Linked DNA regions of Homo sapiens. The protein of the gene in region 2 interacts with the protein of the main gene of each other region in a biochemical or structural test. Each region holds a gene or a part of one and is shown on either strand. Other genes may lie near its edges. The genes, in order: GNAZ and EYA2.

Evidence for each region.
Region 1: the proteins of EYA2 (region 2) and GNAZ form a complex in vitro, tested with the Homo sapiens proteins (one study listed by BioGRID).

The regions. Positions count from the first base shown.
Region 1 is NC_000022.11:23,073,519-23,080,518, reverse strand, and holds part of GNAZ (guanine nucleotide-binding protein G(z) subunit alpha), read right to left. Parts: intron 1-7,000. UniProt on the Homo sapiens protein: Guanine nucleotide-binding proteins (G proteins) are involved as modulators or transducers in various transmembrane signaling systems.
Region 2 is NC_000020.11:46,885,596-46,901,893, forward strand, and holds the start of EYA2 (protein phosphatase EYA2), read left to right. Parts: upstream 1-9,247; 5' UTR 9,248-9,392; intron 9,393-14,792; exon of another isoform or gene 14,793-15,670; intron 15,671-15,831; exon of another isoform or gene 15,832-16,153; intron 16,154-16,298. UniProt on the Homo sapiens protein: Functions both as protein phosphatase and as transcriptional coactivator for SIX1, and probably also for SIX2, SIX4 and SIX5.

The DNA.
Region 1 (7,000 bases), on a different chromosome or scaffold from region 2:
CTATCCTGAAGCCATAGTCCGAGCAGATGGGAGGAAGGACTACGGTTAGTGAACACAGTGTCCCCATCCTACAGACAACCCCAGGCTATGCCCCGGCTGGGCCTCCCAGTGTCCTTCTGCTAAAGGAAGGGGAGATGAGATGACCGGGGAGATGAGATGAACAGGGAGGCCCTTCCCTGTAACCCTGTGCTGTCCTGGCTCTGGACACCCTCAGCCACCTGTCCTGTCTTTTGGCCCACAGCCACCACGGCTGACCAGACAAAGGGTGATAGTGTCGCCTGAGGAACACTGACTCAGGAGGAAATCAAGCCAGATATTTCTCTGGGCCAGGAGTAAATAAATAAATCAATATGCAAAGGTTCCACCTATGGAGGAGAGGGTGGCCATGACAGCAGAGAAGAAGTGGGGCCTTCATTAAGAGCCAAATCAAAGAGGTTGCTGCCTTGGAGAGAGCCGTAGCCCCAGGCTCCTGGCTCCCCAGTTTCCCCAGGGAAGGAAACTGCTGACTCCATCAAACCCTCACTTGAGTGGGGAATCTGATTTCACCTTCTGGGTCTTTGAGGCCCTGCAACCTCCTGCCCTCTGCCTCCATGTGTGGCATCCCACAATCCCATCCCCTACCTTGGGGACCTAGGGGCATGAGTGGTGTCCACTACATGCCCAGCACGCCTTCCCTGCGTCCCTTTCCTTGAGAACTGAGGCTGGCACCACAGGTTGTGGCTGGACCCAGCCAGCCTCAGGGGAACCCTTAATTGCCCTGACTGTCCAGAATTCTACCACTCACTCCCGCTAGCCAGCCCCAGCCTCTCATCTGTTTTGCAGCAGTATGACTTCTCTGGTCTTGCTGTCTCCAGCCCCCTGTGCCCTGTGCTCCACCAGCAGCCAGGGGCATCCTTGTAAAAATGAGGCAGAGTATGTCTCACTTGTGCTTGAAACCTTCTCATGTTTGCTCCCGACGCTTGCTTGACATGGGCAGACCCCGAGTCAAAGTCCAGCCAGGGCACCAGGGCTGTGCAATGCCTGGCCTCTCTGACTCCCACGCCCATGCTCCCCCTCCCCCACTCCTGCCATGCTGCCTCTAGCTGCCTCTCTAGCACCATCCCTCACTCTTAACTCAGGGCCTGTGCACTGGCTGTTCCTTCCTCCTGGAAAACTCTTTGTCCAGAAAGCCAAGTGGACTTCGCTTCCGCGCCCTCTCCCCATCCAATGGCTCAGATGTCCCTTCCTTAGGAGGCCTCCCTGCCCATCCTATTTACGATGGAAAATGACCCCCATATTCGCACACAGCCACACCACGTGTGCTGCCTTGCCCCAAGCATGGTCCCTTTCTAGCACACTGTATAATTTACTTAGAGTGTTTATCGCCCACCTCTTTCCCACTGTGCCATAGGGCAGGGACTGTTGGTCTGTTTGTTCATTGATGTATCCCATGTGCCCACATGGACCTAGCACCAAGCAGGTGCCAATAAATCAATCCCAGGCCCTCGTAGTGACTGAGTGAGGAATCGGTCAACGTGGCTCACGGAGGGGATAGTTGGGGACTTCTGGGAGGTCTTCTGGAAAGGCCCGTGGCCTTCCCTGGGTGGACACGGGTAGACGCACAGCCCCCGCCCACCTGGACTTGGCCGATCCTGATGCTGCCCCACGACTAAGCCCTCAGGCCCGGGAGCCAGGATGTCCCCTCATCTTGTAAGCCCTTTGGGGCTGGGCTTCTGTTGCTACCCCTGCAAGTGTGCTCCCACCCCACATACATTGCATGGCCCCTCAGCCCCCTTAGAAGCCCTGGCCCTCACCCTTGGCCTTCTTCCTGTGCCAGTGATGGGGATAATCCCCCAAACCCTGGCCCACCCAGAGCCTGGGGCTGCAGCCCATTCCCTGTGGTCCCTGGGGACCGCAGTGGCCACACCCTCCACACCTCCTCTATCCATTCCACACCATCCTGGGAGGAGGGAGAGCCCCAGAACAGCCAGCGTGGCAAGACAAACACACTGGAGACTGAGGCCAAGCACTCCAGGAGCCACGACAGAGATGGGGGTGTCAGTGTGGCCAGGAGACTCCTTGGAGGAGGTGGGCAGTGTTGGGGGGACAAGGGCAGCCCCACCAGTGCCTCTGTGTCCCAGCCACGGGGTGGGGCAAGGCTGGGCATGGCTGTGCTTGCGTGCGTGGTGTTATCATAGAGGAAATCAATGCCTGGCACTGGCCCAGTGTTTAAGGGAAATGAATAGATTTTGGCCGAGGACAAAGAGAGTTTGATTAATCCGAAATTGGATAATGGAGGCAACACTCTAATTATTTTTCTTCCCAGCATTTCATCGAGAAATATGTTTGCACAGCATATCAGAGGTAACTGAGCGGGTGAGGGGGTGACCATGCTGGAGGAAAGCCCAGCTCGGAGACAGGCCACCCGCACCCGCCCTCACCAGCAGGGGTCCTGGTAGCCACTCTACAGGGCCACAGGAAGCAAGAGGGCTGGGTGGGGCTGGCCTGAGGCCACATGCAGCTGGGGCAGCTAAGGCCAGAGGGACATGCCATGCAGAGCTGGGCAGGAGGAGGCATGAGGGCCAAGCCCTCATGGTGGAGTTGCTCCTCCCCTGGCCTGGCCACAGTTAGGGGTAGGGCCACTAGTGTGGGGGTGCAAGAGGAGTAGGGGTGAGGTACCACCAGTTCACAGGGGGTCAGGGCCTGCTGGGGTCAGGGTGAAGGCTGTAGGTGCCAAGTTCTCCCACCCATAGTCAGAAGGGTCTTCAGAAGGCCCCTCTTGGCAGCTTGGAAGGTTTTCCCAGCTTTGCCTCTGGGGAAGCCTGATTAGCTGCTCCATAGCCAAGGTCAGACAGGACCACCGGGCCCCACAAACACAGAGCCTGGTACTTTACATGCCTCAGCCCTCCTTAGTCACCTTGCCCCCTCCTCCCTTGCTGACCCCACTCCTGCAACACCTGGAGCTGAAACCACACGGTTTAGCACCTTGTTTCCGTGGCCATCCAGCCTCCCAATTCCAAGAAGGCTTCTAGGGGCTCCTTGCTGGAACAGAGATCAACATCAGGTGTACATCCAAGAGGAGGCTCCCGGCCTTGTAGAGTGGTTGAGTCTCTACCACTCATTCACTTATTCATTCTTCAGTGTACAGAAAGAGGCTGCCATGAACGAAGCATGGGGTTGGACCCTGAGGTCACTACAGGGAGTGAGGCATCAAATGAGAGAAGAGACAGTCAGCAAGCAATGACCTGAGCTGCTCATGGGACTCAGGAAGACGGAGGCCAGTCCTTCCCAATAAGGGGTTAGCATCAGTGTCACTAAGGAAGGGGCATGTAAGGAGAGATAGGGTGGGTTAAAGCTGCTAGATAGGAGGGGGTACAGTGGTGAGGTTCACCAGTCACTGGCAAGCTCATCTAAATCCTGCCTCCCGTGCCCGCTGCAGACATCACTAATCGACCATGACTCTTTCCCTCTGGGCTGCAGCACAGCCTTAGAATCCTCTTCAGCACAGCATGCTTTGGACGGTCACTCCAGAGTTGAGATAAGGAAGGAAACTATCTGTACACTTGACCCAGCCCAGAGCTTCCAACTCAAAGGCAAGGAAGGCCCAGAGAGTGGAAAGCATTCGCAGGGTCACCATCACAGGCAGAGCTGGACTTCTACCCAGGCCTGGTGCCTTCCCCTGCCCTGAGCTCCTCTACTGGCCTGAGAGGCCACTCCTTGATCTTGGGGCACAGGGGCCACCTGGAAAGGCCACTCTACCATCATCATGTTCCTTTACTACCTTCAGGGTCTTGGCTCATCCCCTTAGGACAGTTTTCCATAGACATGCCTCTGAAGGTCATCACTCTGTGAATCCCCGTGTCTGACAAAGGCCCCACTGAGTCACATTGCATCACTGAGTGGCCCGGCGTCAGCCCGAGGCATCTGTCCACCTGCCTCTGGCTTGAGAGTAACCCACAGTTGGGCCTGACGGGGCCCAGCTGGTAGCATCCACCTGAGGGTGGTTTGTGTTTGGTGGCCAAACCTGAGGCCCAGAGACACATCTCTGGGGACCCAAAGGTACAACCTCTTAGGAGCAGAGGGTTGAGCTGGAGCAGGGGTTCTGCAGCGCACGAGCACACAGCTCAGCCCTAGGGCAAAAGGGGCTGGACAGGGCCACTGAGGCATGACTGTCTGCGAATATTCAGTCCCTCCACAGCGACTCCCTGGGTGGCGATTCTCAATGGTGACTCCGCAACGTCCCTGCCCTCATGGAGCTTACACAAACACATACGATGAATGAATCAAATAGGGAGCAGGTCACGCTGTGGCGAGTGCTAAGGGGAAAAAAATAGCAGCAGGAAAGGGCATAGGAAACATGGTCAGGAACATGGCGCTGTTCTACATAGAGGCCCCACCAGCCCTGTCTGGAGCAGGGCCACAGCCTAAGAGCCAGCCCTCACTGCCATGCCAGCCTCCAGCACAGCCTCCTCCTCAGCCACCCTTCCTATGACCAACCAGGGTGAGAGGGACCATGCTGCCCAGATGCGGGGCTGCCCAGACCTACTAAGGCACTGGGCACATGAGGTCCACTCTCCACACCTCAGAGGACCTTGGCCTCCATGACTCACAGGGGCAGACCTCACAAAGGAGCAGACCTCACAGGGGCAGACCTCACAAAGGACCTTGGCCTCCGTGACTCACAGGGGCAGACCTCACAAAGGGACCTCTGTCCTGGCAGCTCTCCATCCCAGGGGCCAAGGGTCTCCTGAAAGGTTTGCTCTAACCACAACCACGGTCCCCCATGGCCATGAGAGGCCTGGCTGAGCCCTCGGGGACGGGGTGTGTTTCTGGTTGGAGGCTGCTAGAAGGAACACCCCCGGGCTTGACACTATGTGTAAGGCCCCTCCCTGCACTGTGGCTTTTAACAGTCTCGCTTCTTAGCACTTTTTGATGGATTCTCCAGGGACGTCTCTAAAAGAGAGTTATACCTTAATTTAGAAGCAAATAACTCAAAACTCTGTGATGTGGCAGCTTCCTTTGGAAAAGAGATGAACGCAAAGAAGCCATTGCTGTGTGAAGCTGTGGCCATGTAGGTCCAGGGCCTGCTGATGGGACCATCTAAACCTCAACCTCAAGATGTGCCTCCTGCTGCCTCTTGCCCAAGGGTCCACAGACCAAGGGGCAAGAAGCAAGACATTTAGTGAAGAATTGCAGCAGGCAATTGCCTGCTGCAGTTTTCACTTTGGGTTCCCTGGGCCATGGTGCCAAGGTGAAGCTCACAGGCTGGGTGTGACTGACTCCAGCGGCCCTGAAAGTCCAACGCAACCCACCCGCCCACTCAGGGAAGGGAGGAGAAATGCTGTGGGGACTGGGCAGCAGGCAGGTTGCGGGCCCACCCTCCAGGCCTTCCTTCTCCACAGGGGCCACTACATCCCCAATATTATCCTTGAGGTCCCTGTGACCAGCCAGCTTCCTGGGCACTCACTTGGGCATCCATACAGTTTTAATGCTCTGCTGTTGCTGTTCTGGAATGCATAATTTTAGTTTTACTTTTGTAGAGACAGGCTCTTACATGTTGCTCAGGCTGGTCTCAAACTCCTGACTTCAAGTGATCCTCCTACCTCAGTCTCCCATAGTATAGGATTACAGGTGTGCGCCATCATGTCAGGCCCTTAATAATTTTCAAATGGGGGCCCCCAAAATCATGTGGCCAGCTGTGCCTGCATTGCTCAGTCCCTGGGCATGCCCTGCCTGCTTGACACAGGGGACCTGCTCTCTGGGACCCGCTCTTCTCCAGCCTCCCGAGGCGCCACTGTGACTGTGCTTCCACCTCACTTGCCCGTCAATCCTCAATCTCTCTTTCTCGATGCTTCTCAACTCATCCTCCCCACAGTGGAGGCCCAGGAGCCCAGCTCAGCCTCTTCTGATCCTACCTACCCTTGATCCCTAAGTGACCTCACGTGGTCCCCGGCCTGCCACACACCTCAGTGCCAGGGGCTCCAGGTTGCCACCTCCAGCCTTGCTCTCCCTCTGGCCACATGTGCCCATCAATGGCTCTCCAGGTCTCAGACCCACCTCCTAATTCCCCACCTCTCCAGAATGGGTTTTTCTGTATCTTGCTTCTCAGCCAATACCAGCTCCATCTTTCTACTGGTTCAGACCAAAACTGCAGCTGTCCTTTAAAAGCTGCAGCTTTAAAAAAACAAATCTCCCACCTGCATTTCTCAGGGCCTCCAGAGCTCCCACCCCTGGGTCAGCAGCCTCTCTGCCTGGGATGTTGCAGTAGCCCCTCATGGCCCCCAGCCTTACCCCACCCTAGCCTATTTTCCCACCTCAGCAGAGAGATCTTTTCAAAGTGTAGATTAGCTCCTCCTGGGAGGGCAGCTCCAGTCTCTTCTCTGCTCCAACCCTGCCAAGGTCTTCCTGCCTCATTGGGGCCCACTGAGTCCTGCAGGACCTGGCCCTGACACCCCACCCACACTCCTGCACCAGGTTCCAGCCACTCTGGTGGGGCCTCCAGGGGCCAGGGAGTGTCTGCTCAGCGCCTTTGCACCTGCTGTCTCTCCCCTGCTCAGCCACACCACTCACCCAGCACTTCTGCATGGCACTGTGTCAGTCCCCCACCCCCATCTCGTGTCCCCCACCTTCTGCTTTAGTGTTCTCCACAGTGCAGCACTTAGTAACATGTGTTACTGTCAACCCCTGCCCGTCTGGTGTGAGCACTGTGAGTGGATGCTACGTCCCTGCTGTACCCCTGCACCTGGCACAGTGCCTGGCATGCAGCAGGCGCTGGTAAATGTTAGCTGAACAAATGAATGGATGAATCGCGTGAGGTTCTGCTCCTCCGGCTCAGTCCAGAGGGCTGATGTCTCCTCCTATGTGCTCTAGGATCTGTCAAGCGGTCCCTGTTGGTTCAATCCTGTGAAGCGCCTCCCCTGGCGGTGTTCGCACGAAAGGGCCAAAATGTGTGGCAGGGGCTGGTGTGGGGACAGGGCAGGGCACTCTTGGCTTTGGGTATGGATGAGGATAATGAGGTTCA
Region 2 (16,298 bases):
TACAGGTGATTTTTATATCACATTATGGTTGTTGTATCTCAAAATACCTTTTCTAGGCAGCACTAACTTTAAAATTAGCTTGCTGCTAGATCCTGTTATTTAGTGCATTAATGAAGAAACTCACATGGCCATATCACAATATTTTCATATTTGTATTCACCATATAATTGAAGTACAATAAACTGGAAATACTTAAAGTGTTAAATTTTTTTACCATTTTTGACACATGCACCATGAAACCATCACCGCAATCAAGACACTGGACTTTTCCGTCACCCCCACTGGTTTCTCTGTGCCTCTCTGTAATCCATTCTTCCCTTCACTCCCACCCACAGGGGACCATTGATTTGCTTTGTGTCACTATACATTAGTTTACATGTTTAAGAAGTTTACATAAATGGGCCAGGCATGGTGGCTCACATATGTAATCCCAGCACTTTGGGAGGCTGAGGTGAACAGATCTCCTGATGTCAGAAATTCAAGACCAGCCTGGCCAACATAGTGAAACCTGTCCCTACAAAACATACAAAAATTAGCCGGGTGTGGTGGTGCAAGCCTGTAGCCCCTGCTACTCGGGAGGCTGAGGTGGGAGAATTGCTGGAACCCAAAAGGCAGAGGTTGCAGTGAGCTCAGATCCTGAGATCACACCACTGCACTCCAGCCTGGGTGACAGAGTGAGACCTTGTCTCAAAAAAAAAAAAAAAAAAAAAATTTTTACATAAATGGAATCATGATTCTTTTTTGGTAGGGAAGGTTCTGCCTTTTTCACTCAACATCATGGTTTTGACATCCATCTGTGTTATATGTGTATCAATAGTTCATTCTTTTTTATAATTTAATAGTCATTTATTGCATGGATATACCACAATTTGTTTATTCATTTACCTGCTGATGGACATTTAGACTGTTTTTAGATTTGGGCTGTTACAAACAAACTTGCTGTTAACAATCGTATACAAGTCAAGTCTTTGTGCGGATTTGTGTTTTCCTTCCTGTTGGGTGTCAAATAGGTGTGTCAGATGACAGAGGGATGTGCAACTTTTTAAGAAACTGCCAAACTGTTTTGTAAAGTGGTTACACCATTTGACATTCCCACCAGCAATGAATGAGAGTTCTAGCTACTCTACATCTTGCCAGCACTTGGTCTGGTCAATCTTTTTGTTAGCCAATATATTGAATACACGGTGACATTTTATTAGAGTTTAATTTGCATTTCCTTGATTATTAATGTTGAGCATTTCTTTATGTGCCTATTGACCATTTGTATATCATCTTTTTGAAGTGCTGGTTTGAAATCTTTGCCCATTTTAAAAATTGAGTTAATTGTCTTCTTAATTGTTGAGTTGTAAAAGTTCCTCATAGATCTGTTATAGATTCCTTATAGATTCAGAAGATATGTCTGATACATCACATGTCTTTGATACTCAGAACATGTACAACACATGTATCAGACACATCTTCATATATCTGTTATAGATTCTGTTATATGGATAGATTCCTTATAATATAGATTCCTTATATGTGTGTATATAATATGTGTAGGTGTAATCTCAGCTACTCAGGAGGCTGAGGCAGGAGAATCACTTGAACCTGGGAGCCCGGGAGGCAGAGATTGCAGTGAGCCGAGATCGCGCCACTGCACTCCAGCCTGGGCAAACGAACCAGACTCTGTCTCAAAAAAAAAAAAATTATAAAACTTCCAGAAGAAATCATTGCAACCTCGGGGTAGGCAAAGGTTTCTTCGAACACAAAAAGTACAAACCATGAAATAAAATATTGATAAACTGGACGACATCAAAATTTAAAACTTTCGTTCTTCAAAAGACAAAATTGAGAAAATAAAAGGCAAGCCATAGATTGGCAGAAATCTATCACATATATCAGAGACATTTTCTTATATCTGTTATAGATTCTGTTACAAGGATAGATTCCTTATAACAGAGATTCCTTATAACAGAATTGGAGGTTAGAAGCAAGATGGTTAAGTTGGATCTCTTTCACTGTCTCAGTCATAATTTTGCAAAGGTGGTTCCAGGCAGAGAGACCATCTGTCCCAGTTTGCTGGGGACAATCTTAGTTTATGCTTTGTTATTAATGCTCCTTTTGCTCTCAAAAGTGTCCCACTCTCAAAAGGTCTCTAGACCTCTGACCTTGAGGGACTCCTATAGTCTCTTCAGGTACTCCTTACGTCTTCAGGACCACAAAATCTTCTAGAATTTAGAACAATATCTGTTGGGGTTCTGGGGATCTCTGATGTCTCTCAGTCCTTGCTTCCGAGATAATTCCACCGATGCACGCTGAGATCAGTTGACTCCATTCACCATCCAAGACATTATATCCAGCTAAAAGCCAGCAAAAAGACAAGACAAATGTATTAAAAAGCCTTCTGGCTTCATTCTATTTGTTTTTACTCTCCTGGGAAAAGAGAATGCAAAAAGTGACAGATCTTGGAAGGAAATGGCCAGGAGGTGTAGAGATTCTTGTGCTTAGCTGAGAGGGCCAGCGTGGAGCTGGGTGAGGAGGTCACAGAGGAAGAACAGTTAGAGGAGAATGCTGTTTTAAACAGGGTGGTCAGGGTCTCTCTGGGGTAGAGGCATTTGAGCAGAGACCTGAATGGAGTGAGGGTGAAAACCATAGGACTATGTCAGGAAGGGGTAGTGCAGGCATAAAGAGCAGCATGCCTGGGTGTCTCAAAGGTCCCTCTTCACATGAGTGAATTAACATCTCCCACCGAACACTGGTGATCCTGAAATTCTGATGCTCTGCCAGAAAATGCACCCAAGAGTTGATTTCCCATTGTTTTAAATGGGAAACATTATAATGCATGACAGGTCAACCCAAGCCCCCAACACCCCAATCCTCATGGCCTAATCACTTCTTCAAGATCCTGGGCTCAAGAGATCCTCCTGCCTTGGCCTCCCCAAGTGCTGGCCCACTTTCTTGATAATGTTCTCTGCAGCAAAAAAGTTTTTAACTTTGATGAAGTCTAATTTATCTTTTGTTTGTTTGTTTGTTTGTTTTTTTGAGACAGAGTCTCACTCTGTTGCCCAGGCTGGAGTGCAGTGGCAAGATCTCAGCTCACTCTCTTAAAATAGAGCTAAGCACTTAAAATGCTGTCTTAGTCTGTTTGCTCTGCCATAACAAAATACCTGAGATTCTGGTATTTTATAAAGAACAGAAACTTATTTCTTATGGTTCTGGAGGATGAAAAGTTCAAGATCAAGGTGCCGGCAGGTTTGGTAGTCTGGTGAGAGCTGCTGTTTGCTTGCAACATGGTGCCTTGTTGGTGTGTCCTCCAAAGGAGAAGTTGAAGCAAGCCTCTATTTATTTAAGAAGGACCTGAATCTCATTCACAAGGGAGGAACCCTCATGACCTAATCACCTCTTCAAGGACTCACTTTTTTTCTTTTCTTTTTTTTTTTTTGAGACGAAGTCTTGCTCTGTCACCCAGGCTGGAGTGCAGTGGCACAATCTCGGCTCTCTGCAAGCTCCGCCGCCCGGGTTCACCCTTTTCTCCTGCCTCAGCCTCCAGAGTAGCTGGGACTACTGGCGCCCGCCACCACACCTGGCTAATTTTTGTATTTTTTAGTAGAGATGGGGTTTCACCGTATTAGCCAGGATGGTCTCAATCTCCTGACCTCGTGATGCGCCCACCTCAGCCTCCCAAAGTGCTGGGATTACAGGCGTGAGCCACCTCGCCCAGCCAGGACTCACTTCTTAATTCCATCACATTGGCCATTAAGTTTCAACTCCTGAATTTTGGAGGGGACACATTCAAACCACAGCACATGTCTACCAGTAAGTATCAAAGCAGTAAAATGTTTCAAACATAGCTTCCTGATCACCAAATCATCAGGAAAGTTTTCAACAAATAATTGGTTTGTCTGTGGCAACACAGCCACATCTGATTGCATGTCCCTTTCATTGCTCCTTAGTGTACTTTTCTAAATGTGATTCTGATGTTCTCTCAGTGGTAGTTGACATGCTGCTTTTCCTGCATGGTGTTTTGATGGAGATGCTAACTCTAATTTGGGGGATACAAATATCAGTTTTTCTTTGTAAATATTCATCTGATAATTGTGAGAAATGTGCCTTCTATGAAGTTTGAGTATTAAAAACAAAGTCATTTTATTGGAAAACTACTTACTGAAGAGACATTTGAAGCATCCCTGTATTTGTCTGCTTGGGTTAGGAAGGACGTGAGATTTCTCTCTCTCTGTCTCTCTCTCTCTCTTTTTTTTTTTTTAATGTTTGCAAAAAGCCCCTGCCCATCCCCACATACACACTGTATCATAAACTGCCTTTTTTGTAAAGACTCATGAGAAAATTTCTCTCCTGTATCAATATCAGGCAAAACTCTGATTTGCCCAAGTCATTTGGTTTCTTTCTCATAGAAGAATTAAGAATCATGAACACTGGCTGGGCACAGTGGCTCACGCCTGTAATCCCAGCACTTTGGGAGGCCGAGGCAGGCGGATCACCTGAGGTTGGGAGTTCGAGACCAGCCTGACCAACATGGAGAAACCCCGCCTCTACTAAAAATACAAAAATTAACTGGTCATGGTGGTGCATGCCTGTAATCCCAGGTACTCGGGAGGCTGAGGCAAGAGAATCGCTTGATCCCAGGAGGCAGAGGTTGCAGTGAGCCGAGATTGCATCACTGCACTCTAGCCTGGGCAACGAGAGTGAAACTCTGCCTCAGGAAAAAAAAAAAAAAAAGAATCATGAACACTATGGAGCACTTTGAAATCCATGATTCTTAATCTTGACTCTGCAGAGCTTTGGGGGTTCCTTCAAGACCTTTACACATACCTACAGGAGAAAGGGGTGAGGCATAAGGCTGTGGCTGGGAACCCTCACCTCCTTTTTCCATACTGAACTTCTATACATACTAGATTTTAAACAAAGGAAAGTTTGAAAGCCACTGATGTAACTGATCACATTTCTGTCCTTGCAGTGGCTGCCTGGAAGCTCAGCATCTAATTCTCAGTTCTCCACTGACAAGTGTCCAGGACCTTCTAGCTCACATTTTGTGTGCAAACCTTACCTTGACTTTCTTTTGTTTTCTTTCCTGTTTCCCTGTTGTCTGCTTTTCTTGTTTTCTTTATTCTGCTGCCATATATATGGTTTTATATGTTGCCTCAAATCCTTTTTGGAAAGAGCCAAGGTTTAAGTGAATGTATTTTAAAAAATTGAATGCTTTTTCTGTAGAGGTGACCTTTGCAGGTGGGAAAGGAATATGTTTAGAAAAAAGGCATGATTTGTAGAATTCACATGTGTGTTTGTAGGATATGTATATACATATCCTACAATGAATATACATACATTGGATATATTGTGAGGTTCATAGTTTTCAAAATTAATGTGTTTTTCTGGCTTTAGAGGGCATTTACTTGGAAGACTGGAGTGGGGGAAATGTGTTTTACTCCAAGGTAGGCATGACTGTGGACTACACCACAAAGAATCTGCTGTATGGCTTAGCACTTTCAAATTTTGTTTGGGATCATTTTGCTGGTTGTTATCAAATGAGGACAAATACTTAACAAAGAGATAGCAAGGGAAGAAAGAGACAGAAAGGGGGTGCTTCTACATAGGAAGGTGGCTGAATTTTCAGGGTCTTGAATTAGCATTGGGGGCTTAAGTCCTATCAGCTTCTGCTCATCTGCTGTGACTCTGTGGTCAAGGTCTCACTCTCCCAAAGATAGGGATTCTCTTCCTCTGCTGTATATTGGAATCACCTAGGGAGCTTTAAAAAAGGATGATGCCGGCCAAGCACAGTGGCTCACGCCTGTAATCCTAGCACTTTGGGAGGCCAAGATGGGTGGGTCACCTGAGGTCAGGAGTTCAAGAGCAGCCTGGCCAACATGAAGAAACCTTGTCTCCACTAAAAATACAAAACTTAGCTGGGCGTGGTGGCACATGCCTGTAATCCCAGCTACTTGGGAGGCTGAGGCAGGAGAATTGCTTGAATCCAGGAGGTGAAGGTTGCAGTGAGCCAAGATCACACCATTGCACTCCAGCCTGGGCGACAGAGTAAGGCTCCTTCTCAAAAAAAAAAAAAAAAAAAAAAAGGCAGATGCCACAGTTCCACCCCAGAGTCTGGTTTAATTGGTCTAGGATGGGGACTCAGCATGGAGATTTTTAAAAGCTCTCCCTGGAGATTCTGTGCACCCAGAGTTGAGAATCACAGCGCTAAGAGAAGGAAAAATAAAATTAATAAGCACCTGCCTCCTGCTTATCTCTCAGGGTCGTTGGGGTGTGTCTGTAATTTATGAAATAATGGGCCAGATTCTGGGGAAGGAATAAAATGGTATGAAGGAAATAGATTAACCCTTTGCATTCTATAGGGTACCTTTGGTTAACAAGTGTTCAAGATTTTTCCCCATGAGCCACAGGAAGAAACATTTCACATCCTGACCAAAGATATAGATATAGATATGGATATAGATATAGATACAGATACATGTGTGTATATATATATGTATGTATGTATACGTATATATGATATACGTATACATATATACATATATATCTCTCCATTGTAAATTGAAAATATCCTAAGTTCAAAATGCATTTAATACGCCTAACCTACTGAACATCATAGCTCAGCCTAACCTACCTTAAATGCACTCAGAACACTTGCATTACCTCGCAGTTGGGCAAAATCATCTAATACAAAGCCTATTTTATAATACAGTTTTGAATATCTCATGAAATTTATCAAATATTTTGCTGAAAGTGAAAAATAGAATGGTTGTATGGGTATCTCAATTGTGGTTTCTACTGAATACACATCACTTTCACATCGTCATAAAGTCAAAAAAATCATTAAGTGAAACCATCATAAATTGGGGACCATATGTATACATTTAACTATATATAGGGGATCATATGTATATATGTAACTATATATGTATAGGTATGTATATATATTCTTACTGCATACAATTCACTTGATATTTCCTATTCCAGTCTATTCCTTTAGGAAAAAAAAATTAAGGTTCACAGGCCAAGACAAATTAAACACCTCTGAAGGTCATTAAGATGCTCAATTTATAATGACTTGGAGCACTTAGCAAAGATACTATGGGAAGTGAAGCTGTGTGTACAGTAATAATATTTGTTGAGCAATTGCTAGTGCCAGCTGCAGTCATAGTAGAAAGTGTTTTATGAGCATGAGCTCCATGAATTTTCACAATAATAGTATAAGATGAGTACTGTTATTTTCACTTTAGTGATGAGAAAATCAAGGCCAAGTACATATGTACATTCTGCCTCTAGAAGACAGAAGCAGAGCCATCTCCAAGCCTACTGCGGCAGGCCCAGAGAAGAGAACAACCATGTTTACTGAATACATTTGCTTCTGTCTGAAGTTTGGGGAGTAGAAAGCGGAGTAAGCTATGACCAGAGGTGGGTCTGGGAATGGTGAGGCCTGATACATGTATAATTTGCAGCCCCTATTCAAGAAAAAGAGTACAAAATTATGAGTCCAAGATTAGATAAGAAAATGATTATTTCTTTAAATTAAGAAAAGAAATCACAACAAATTCAAATTTTAAGAAGCTGAAAATTACCACAAACATCACAAAATTCCCAACTCAACTTTCCTCCAAAATGCCAGCAGCCACCTGACACCACCCTACTCAAGGGCAAGTTGGGGGTGGGGAATCGGAGTGGAAAGACAGCGGTGTCTACGGCCTGCAGCCAAATGTCCAAAGCAAAGGACTTTTGTAAACTTTACATCAACAAGCCACCATCTGAACACTTTTCTAAGTCCCCTTAGAAAGGGGTCCAAGCAAGTCAGGGGCCCAAGAACTTAACCTTCATCAGCTCCTGTAAACTTACAACTGGAATTGAAGACTGTTACGGCTCAAGAGCAACGGCTTTGGAGTCAGCCAGGCCTGAATTTCATTCCTGGCTCAGCCACTTTCTGCCTTCTTTGAGCTTGGACCTGCTCATTTGTGAAATGAGTGTGCTGACAGCAGCTACCTTGGGGTCTCTCTTGGGGATTACATGAGATAAGGAAGAGTTGGGCATTGGATGAGCTTAAGGTTGCAAATAAAAATATAGGACCCCCGGTTACATTGGAATTTCGGAGACAAAAGAAATACTTTTTAAATATAAGTACGTACAACCAATCGCATAAGACATATACTGCAACTGATTCCTCGTTTCTCTGAAATTCAAATTCACCTGGGTGCCCTGTCTTTTACTGCACTTAAGAAATGACAGTGGTTGATATTGCTTTTGGATTGAAGCATCCTGGGTGTCCCACGGTGGAATTCATAGACATTAGAGAGTGGGTGACGGGCTAGGAAAGGCTGCATAGACTCCAATTAACACAGTTCATTGCCAGGGAGACTAAAAGGGGGGTGGCTATGAGAGGATGGAGTAAGTGGGGTGCCTTGATTTGGGCATGTAGGTGGAGGGGGCTATACCTCTCACTTTCACTAAACCAGTTAAGCTCTTGAGACCTCAGTTTCCTTAGCTGTAAAATGGGTGAAACATAGGGGAGACCCCTGAACCGTTCTCACCTAAATACCACACCAATGGCACTTCCTCATAATTCAGATGTCACCTCCTCAGAGAGGTCTTCCCTGACTGCTCTAGCTAAAATTACCGCCTCTCCTCCACTCCCCAACAGCAGATACATATATTATTTTTCTCCCTGTAACTCTAACTTTCTGAAACTGTCTTGCTTCTTTACTTGGTTATTTGTTTATGGTTTGCCTCTCCATGTGAATGCAAGTTCCGGGAGGGCAGAAAACTAGTCTGTCTTGTTCTAGCTGAGTCTCTCAGGAGTGGTACCTGGCACAGTAGATGCTCAATATATTTTGAATGAATGAATGGGTGGTTGAGTGAACGAATGTTAGTGTCACTATTGAGGTCCTCTCCGAGCCGTCGTTCCTTTCACAGGGGTCATGCCTGGGTTGCAGGGAGGATGTGCTGCCCCGGGGAGGGAGGAGGTGCGGGGTGTCGGTGGGTGGGGAGGAGGCTGGGCCCTGGCCTCCAGGACCGGCGAGAGTGAGCGCGCTCTGCTCGGCTGCAGGCTCAGGAAGCGGCGCGGCGGCACGTGCTGGGCCAGAGCCCCGCGCCCTGCGTCCAGCCGCCGGGTGTGTGCGCCCGCGTAGCCCAGCGTCGCGCCTCGGCGCCCCCACGCGCCCACGCAGCGGCGCGGGGACCCGGGCGGGGGCAGAGGGAGGGCCCGGCCCAGGGAGGAGAAGGGGCCGGTCCTCCCGGCGCAGGCAGCAGCCGCGGCAGCCCAGGAGGCGGAGGCAGCGGCAACGGCAGAGACAGCAACGTGCCCGCCGCAGTCAGCCCGGCCTCGTCGGACCCGCACCGGCCCGCCCGCCCGCCCGCACCGCGTCGGGGCGCCCTCTCCACTGCGCGCGGTGAGTACCGCCAGCGGCGCCCACCCCAGGCCGCCCGCCGGGATTCGCCGGGCGGGGGGAGTTGTTCACCGGGACCCCCTCGCCCTGCGCCTCTTTCTGGCACTCGCCAAGCGGGGCCTCCGCAGCTGTCGGGACGTTCTGGGGCGCACGGGCCTCCCAGGGCCAGGAAGGCACAAGGGCAGAGGGGACAGCAGCAGAGCCCCCCTCTGGAAAGGCTCTCCCAGGCTCGGGGCCCCAGTTTCCCCATGCGCTTTGGGGCAACGACCCTGAAGTTTGCTCTCCCGCGCGCGGGACAAGTGCATGGCGCGCAGGCGGTGTAGACGCGGCTGGGTCCTTGGCGTTTTGTTCGATTATGGTCCCGGCGGTTCGCGATAAGGGGCGCTCCCCCAGTCCGCAAACTCAAGCCCTCAGGTAGTGTTTATGGGATAACCAAGAAGCAGAGCCAACCGCTGGAATCCCGGCTTGGGGCTGGAACGGCCCGCTGAGACTTTGCCTTCTAGCTATTGATATATTTCTTTTCAAAAGTCCGTTTGCGCTCGGCCCGCTCTGGTTCAGGTCTGGGGCTTTGAACCGGGGCAGGGAATCCTGGCGCCTGCTGCGGGTAGAGTTGAAACTTAGAAAAGTTTACATCCGAAGGGTGTTTAGAAGGCGGCAAGGATTTCGTTGTAATGGGAGAAAGTGGGAAATGGAATTGTTTTTTAGTCATGAAGTCTGGAGGTTAAACGGCCGTGCTGGCCCAGGCTCCTTCAATATATTCCTGCCTGCCTCCCCCCCAGCAATAAATAGTTTATAAGCTCAAGGAATACTAGGAAAGCGTGACTGGTGAACGTACTCCTATCGCAAAAGACTCAGTGCGCTTTTCTCAGCTGTTGAACTGGAAGCGCCTTTTGCAGTGCGAGGTTCCTGCTTCCCCGAAGCCGAGGCTGAGAGTTGACAGCGTGCACCCTGCCGCGGTCTGAATTCTTTTTAAAAAGCAAGACCGATGCTGCGTTTTTATGGATACCCTTTTCTTTTCTTTCCCCTTCCCCGAAATGCTATGTAATCTTCAATTACTTTTTAAAATATAACGTGGAGGTATAAATCACCCCGGTAAGAGGTACCTTTTAATTACGAGGTGCAGTGGAAGAGCTGAACATTGGAATCTAGCTGTTAGCGAGGGCGGAGGGGCAGGAGGATGATTTACAAACATCATGTAAGAATTTGAGCACTGAATTATGTTTGAGTTAGGGAGATCCCTTACAAAGGAAATTATAACCAGTGGACAATTGTATTTCAAACCGAATCTATTAATTTCATGAGCCGTTTCTTGATTGAGTGAAATGTCTGTGACCATAATAGATACAGAACTAGTAAGCACCTTACCAGACTATGACCCATTTGTTAGCAACTAACATACACATGTAACCATCCTGCTTACAAAAAAAAAAAGAGGTACACAAAGAAAGAGTGGGAGGAGAGAACCTCTTTTTCAAAATAATCTTTGTGAAAGAATCTTTCACAATTTTACTCGATAAATAAATGTTCATTTTTTCCACTTGTCTTTCTTCATCACCTTAAGCCCCTTCATCCTTTACATATCTTTGCATTTAGACACTCTCACACTTGGGTAAGTTCTTCTATAATTTATATAACAAATAACAAATGATAGTGGTTTGAATCTTGCTTTTGACTAAGCATTAAATTGTGTTTGTATTAAAAAAAATCTCCTTGCCTTCGTAGCAAACTCTTAACTTTTGCCATTGTGAAAAGACCAATGTGGTTAGATGCAAAAGAGCCTGAACTTTTTTTTACTTTAAAGCAGTTTATATGTCCCCATTCTCTTGTAACTTCAGCTTCACAATATCATTCACTATTTTATCTGAAAGGAATTGGCATTTTTCTTTTCTGTCTTAAAATAGCTCACCTGGTGTTGTGACCATGTGTATGAGAATACTCTATAAACACACAAATCACTTCCCCAATATCAGAAAAACTAAAGGAAATATAAAATAAAATAAAAAGATGTGTATCTCAATACTTTAGGATTTTTTTAAAAAGTTTTCATCACGTAAGTTTTAGAATCTTCTTTTCATGTCTTTTGTTTTGCATTAAACACATCATAAAGAGGTATGATTTGTTGACTTGTTATAGGATTACCATTTGGCAAAAACGCCCAAGACACGCTGTTTCAAATATGTGGTATTACTTCTGCTTTAAATTGCGTGTAAGAGATTGCAAACCTTGTTCCAGATGGATAAATTGATAAAATGCTAGCTGCTGTTGGGAGAATGGAAAAGCCCTCAGCAAAAAGGCTCTGTGGTGTAGCTAAGTACATTTTGAATTAGGGTGAGCAAGCTATGGAGACCCCAGCCGTTTGTGAAAAAATATACACAGTCCAAGCACGTCCACTTTAAGACGTTGTTGGATCCTCCGTGACAAGATGACTCCTTTCCCACAAAGAAGAAACCGTTTCCTTATTTTTTCAGTTACTTTTCCAAAGACAACTTGCATCGGGCGCAAGAGAGCAGAGTTATGCAGAAATCCAACCGTAACCAGCTCAGAGCGAGGACTCATTCTCTCTCCTTCCACCAGATGTTTTTTAGGTGTCCTCAGCTGGAATGCCCAGTTTGAAACTAATTAGGCCAGCAGTAAACTCCTTGTATAATAAAATCGCAGGCCGTAATGGTGAATAAGTGAGGTTCCCAGCCGCTTATGACAGATGCCTTTCTGGGCAGAGAGAGAAGAGAGCCTGTGGCTGTCAGGAGAAAATGAAGGGAGTGGAGGTGCCTTCTTTAGACACATGCCTTTCCTAAGTATCCACGCACATGATCGCAGAGCGGAGGAGTGGAAGTTGCGACTGGGGTAGAGTTTTGTCTTTGCTGGGCAGGCCTCCTTCATACAAAGATGCTTGGGGGAGAATCAATTATAAGTATTAGGCAGTGTCTTCAGGTCTTAGGTGTATGCTGTGTGTGTGTGTGCAAAGGCTTGGGGAGAAGGATTGGTGTCACGTGCGGGGCAGTGTAAAAAACTTAACTGCTTCCCACCTGGGCACAAAATGAAAAGAAAGACTGCCTGGCCTGACATAAATTCCTTGGGAGAGAGGAGAACCTGCTCCCCCAGAGACTTTTGATAAAGGGAGAATTCGCCTAATGATGTGGTTCCCCTTATCTGTGAGGTTTGTGAGGGTGAAGGAGTTGGTTAGTCTGTTACCTCCAAAGGCTGGACTTTCTGACTAAGACTGGGTTTTGTTGGTGGAAGGAACCGGGTTTTTTGGGTTTTTGTGTTGGTTTTTTTTTTTTTTGGTTGTTTTTGTTTTTGTTTTTTTTAGCTAACTGTTCTGAAAAAGGAGTTGGTAGACTGTGCTCAAAAGGAATCTCTTTACAAAGAATTAATCCCAGAGTTAAGAAAACACAGCCTGTTGACAGAAAACACACACACACACACACACACACACACACCACAATTCTTCACTCACTCCCAACCCTCTTCCCTGATCTCCATCCCCCAATGTCATAACAGCTTCCTGAATGGCCCACTTCTCCCCACTATCATTTGTGGCAGTTCAAACAGTCCTAAACATACAAAACAAAAAGAAGATTCTGGTAAGAAAACAATTAGCAGAGAATTCGCTGGAGACAATGCTTCGTTTTCACTGTTTGAAGATCGTAACTGGCCTAATGGTGTTTGACTAACACCCTTTTCTAGTCGGAGGAGGATAAACACCCCCTCCGTCAGGTGGTAAATACTTGAAGTGACAGTAACTGAGGCTGCAGACCCACTTGTGTTATTGTAAATGAATCAGAGGGGCAAGACCTTGTTCTTTACGGCGTGTGATTTAAAATCAGTTTTAAGGTACCTGCCAGGTGTATTTAGAGGAAAAGGCATGAAGGAAGCCACAGGCTTATACATTCATTTTTAGTGCATATTTCTTTTTGTTCATTTTCATCCTATTGAGTTCCTTTGTCATTTCTCTGACTTGCAAATTATACCCTTCTGTTTAATAGTAATGATGAAAATAGCTGCTGTTTATTGAGAACTGGTATACCAGGCCTGCAGTCAGCTCTTCACGTGTATTTTTAAAGTGGATTCTTGCCGCAACCCCTTGAGTATTATTATCATTATTTCAACTTTGTTAACAAGGAAACTGAGTCGCAGGTCAAATGACCGACACAGGGCCAGACTGAGTGAAAATGAAATCTACGCTTTTGCTTCTCTGCAAAGTATGCCTTATCCATGTGCAATACAAGCTTTGGCTCAAAACATTTCTGCTATCATTTCCTTTGGAGGAAGATGCTGAATTTGGATGGTTTTAAATGCACAGAACACAGTTATTTTCTGAACCTGCCCTGACGTTTTTTGCCACTGTCGTTTGAAATGGGGAAACAAAATCATATTAAATATTCAGGAACACAAATACAAACCTCTGTGAGCCATGACCCTTAACCGGTTGGGTATGGTTCTGTAAAGGAAAATGACGGTTTATTTAAGGGCTAATTTGATTTATTCCTTCGATACTAACACTACGCATTTCAGGTCCTAAAAAGAGTCAATAAATTTACCGGCAGTGGAGAGGCCCTAAAACATTACGGTAGGCGCAGCCCAAGTCAAGTTTACCGGAAGGTGCTGGATCGCTATGGGTGGGTGTTGTTTCGGGTTAGATTTTAAACATTTGGAGAGCAAAGAATAATTTGGAACAGGTGGTGCCGAGAGTCAGGTAGCTGGAATGATTTATCTTTGCCTCTTTGAACGTTAAGGGAGGCCACTGGTTGCCTGAATCTGGAACCAGCAGGCTGCGGGTCAGTGGGGGCTGAGAGACTCGTCTTTGGGACAAACTTTGGCAGGATCCAGGGGCTTCGTCAGCGCTGTCATCGCCTTTGGATGATAGTAGTCAGAACACAGTTGTGCCTGCTCGTGCATTTTTGAAAAGTCTGCCTCTGCCTTCAGATATATGCAGAAATCTAAAACAGGAACTTAGACGCGCCGCAATGCCAATTTAAACATCTTTAAAAATGAACAAAGTATGTAATAGAGGTTAGAAACTCTTTTGTCATTTGGTATCAATAGTGTTGTGTCAGTAACATGAAAATGTGTGTAATTTCAATGGCATTGCACTTTCTTCTTCTTTTTTCCTTTTGAGTATCTAGTAAAGTTACATTTTTTAAAAGTCTGTGTTCCCAGATGTAATAGATACGAACGTATCTACTTGCAGTCATTCAGAGGAGAATTGTCAACTCTCTGCTAATGTAACTAAAGGAAAAATGATAAAATCAACATATTTTTCCCCAAAGAATGAGGAACTGGAGGGTTTGACTACTGTATATGGCAACTTACTTTTGTCTCGCGTCAGCTAAATCTGTCAGTTCCCCTTTCTTTTCTATTCATCTCCCAAGAATGGCCTTTCATAACTGAAATACACGTGTATTAGCCAAAAGACATTTTAATTTTGTAAAGAAAAATCATGCCAGAGACAGCCGGGTCTGTTTCAACCATTATTGTTTCTGCAGCATGCATACTTTGGGTTTCATGGTAAGATGTGGGTTTGTCAAGAAAGAAAATTACAGCAAGAAGCTATGCTGAAAACATATACACTTCTGTTTAAGAAATGAGAAAAACACAGAAAAATTCCACACAGTAATTGCTTTTACGTGAGTTTTAAATGTCATTGTTTGACTTATGTCAAAAAGCCCCCTTAGCCAGTTCTCTCATACTCCGTTACCAAATATCTCACCTTAAAAACAGCAAATGTTGGACTTCATTTTGATGATCTTTGAGGCTTTCAGAGATATCCTTAGTCCTAGTGGAAACATTCCAAATTTTTAGATTGTGCAGGCCATTTTTTTAAGGTTACTTAGATATCGATTTTATTTTCTTGACCCAAAATGAGAAAACACGGGGAATTCTCAAAAGCTTTTTACAGGCTGCTATTACGAGAAGAGAAGCCAAACCAACATGTATTAGGTCATGCGCTTGAAGTGCATAAATAAGCCCTATGAAGGTCACCAAACAGGGTGAAAACCACTAGTTCTCGTTACCTTGGCCACCTCTAAATTCCTGCCTGTTAGACGTGTTTGGTTGAAGTGGACACAGAAAGCGGGTTTCCGAGCCCGTGGTTGAAAGATCTCAATTTGACTTGGGTCCTCAAGGCGTCCTTGTGGTAAAGGGAGATAGGAAGGCTGAAATTCTGGTCTCCTCCCCATGGCTCCCTCTCACGGTTCCGGAGAAAAAGCAGGTACTGGGGCCTTCTCTTACTCCAAAGCAGATGTTTCCTACCTGGTATTCGGATATGCGGAAGTCAGAAGCTGAAAATAAAATGAAATGAAAATGTTCCTTCTGGTCAGTTTCTTCACCTCCCATTCCCTTCCTATAGTCACTTTGTGGTTAAGGTATTCATGGTTTCCAAAACAATTTTTTGTTCCCACTATGTTTTCTAGCATTTAAGATGCAAGGTATAAGTACTCACCTTTAAATCTCTATTGATTGGCAGCTTCCTGAAATACAGAGTCAGAGAGCGTGTCCACCACGTCCTGAGTTTGGTACCAACCCAGGTGCTGATGGAAATTCCAAGTAGGGAGAAAACGTCCTCTTCGGAGAGGCAGGGTGTCAGCGCAAAGAGGTTATTTTCTTTTGTGGGTGTGTATTATTTGCACATATCAGGACTTTTGTTTCAGGGTGTTCTAGAAACATTGATCTCTCCAGCAAAGTTCTGCGTGTCCTTCTTGGTTGGGAAGGGAGCGGAGAGGAAGGAGCCCCGAGGAGAATCGTGCACCTTTGGCCTTTTGTGTGACTCCTAGAGTAGAGGGAAGCCTCCGCTGCTCGGAAGGTGTCACGTGGTATAACAAGTTGTGACTTGTGCCTGTGTTGTCAACAGAGTTTTAGCCCCGTCCAGACATGAAAAAGAATGGAGCCCCGAAGATGATTCACCTCCGG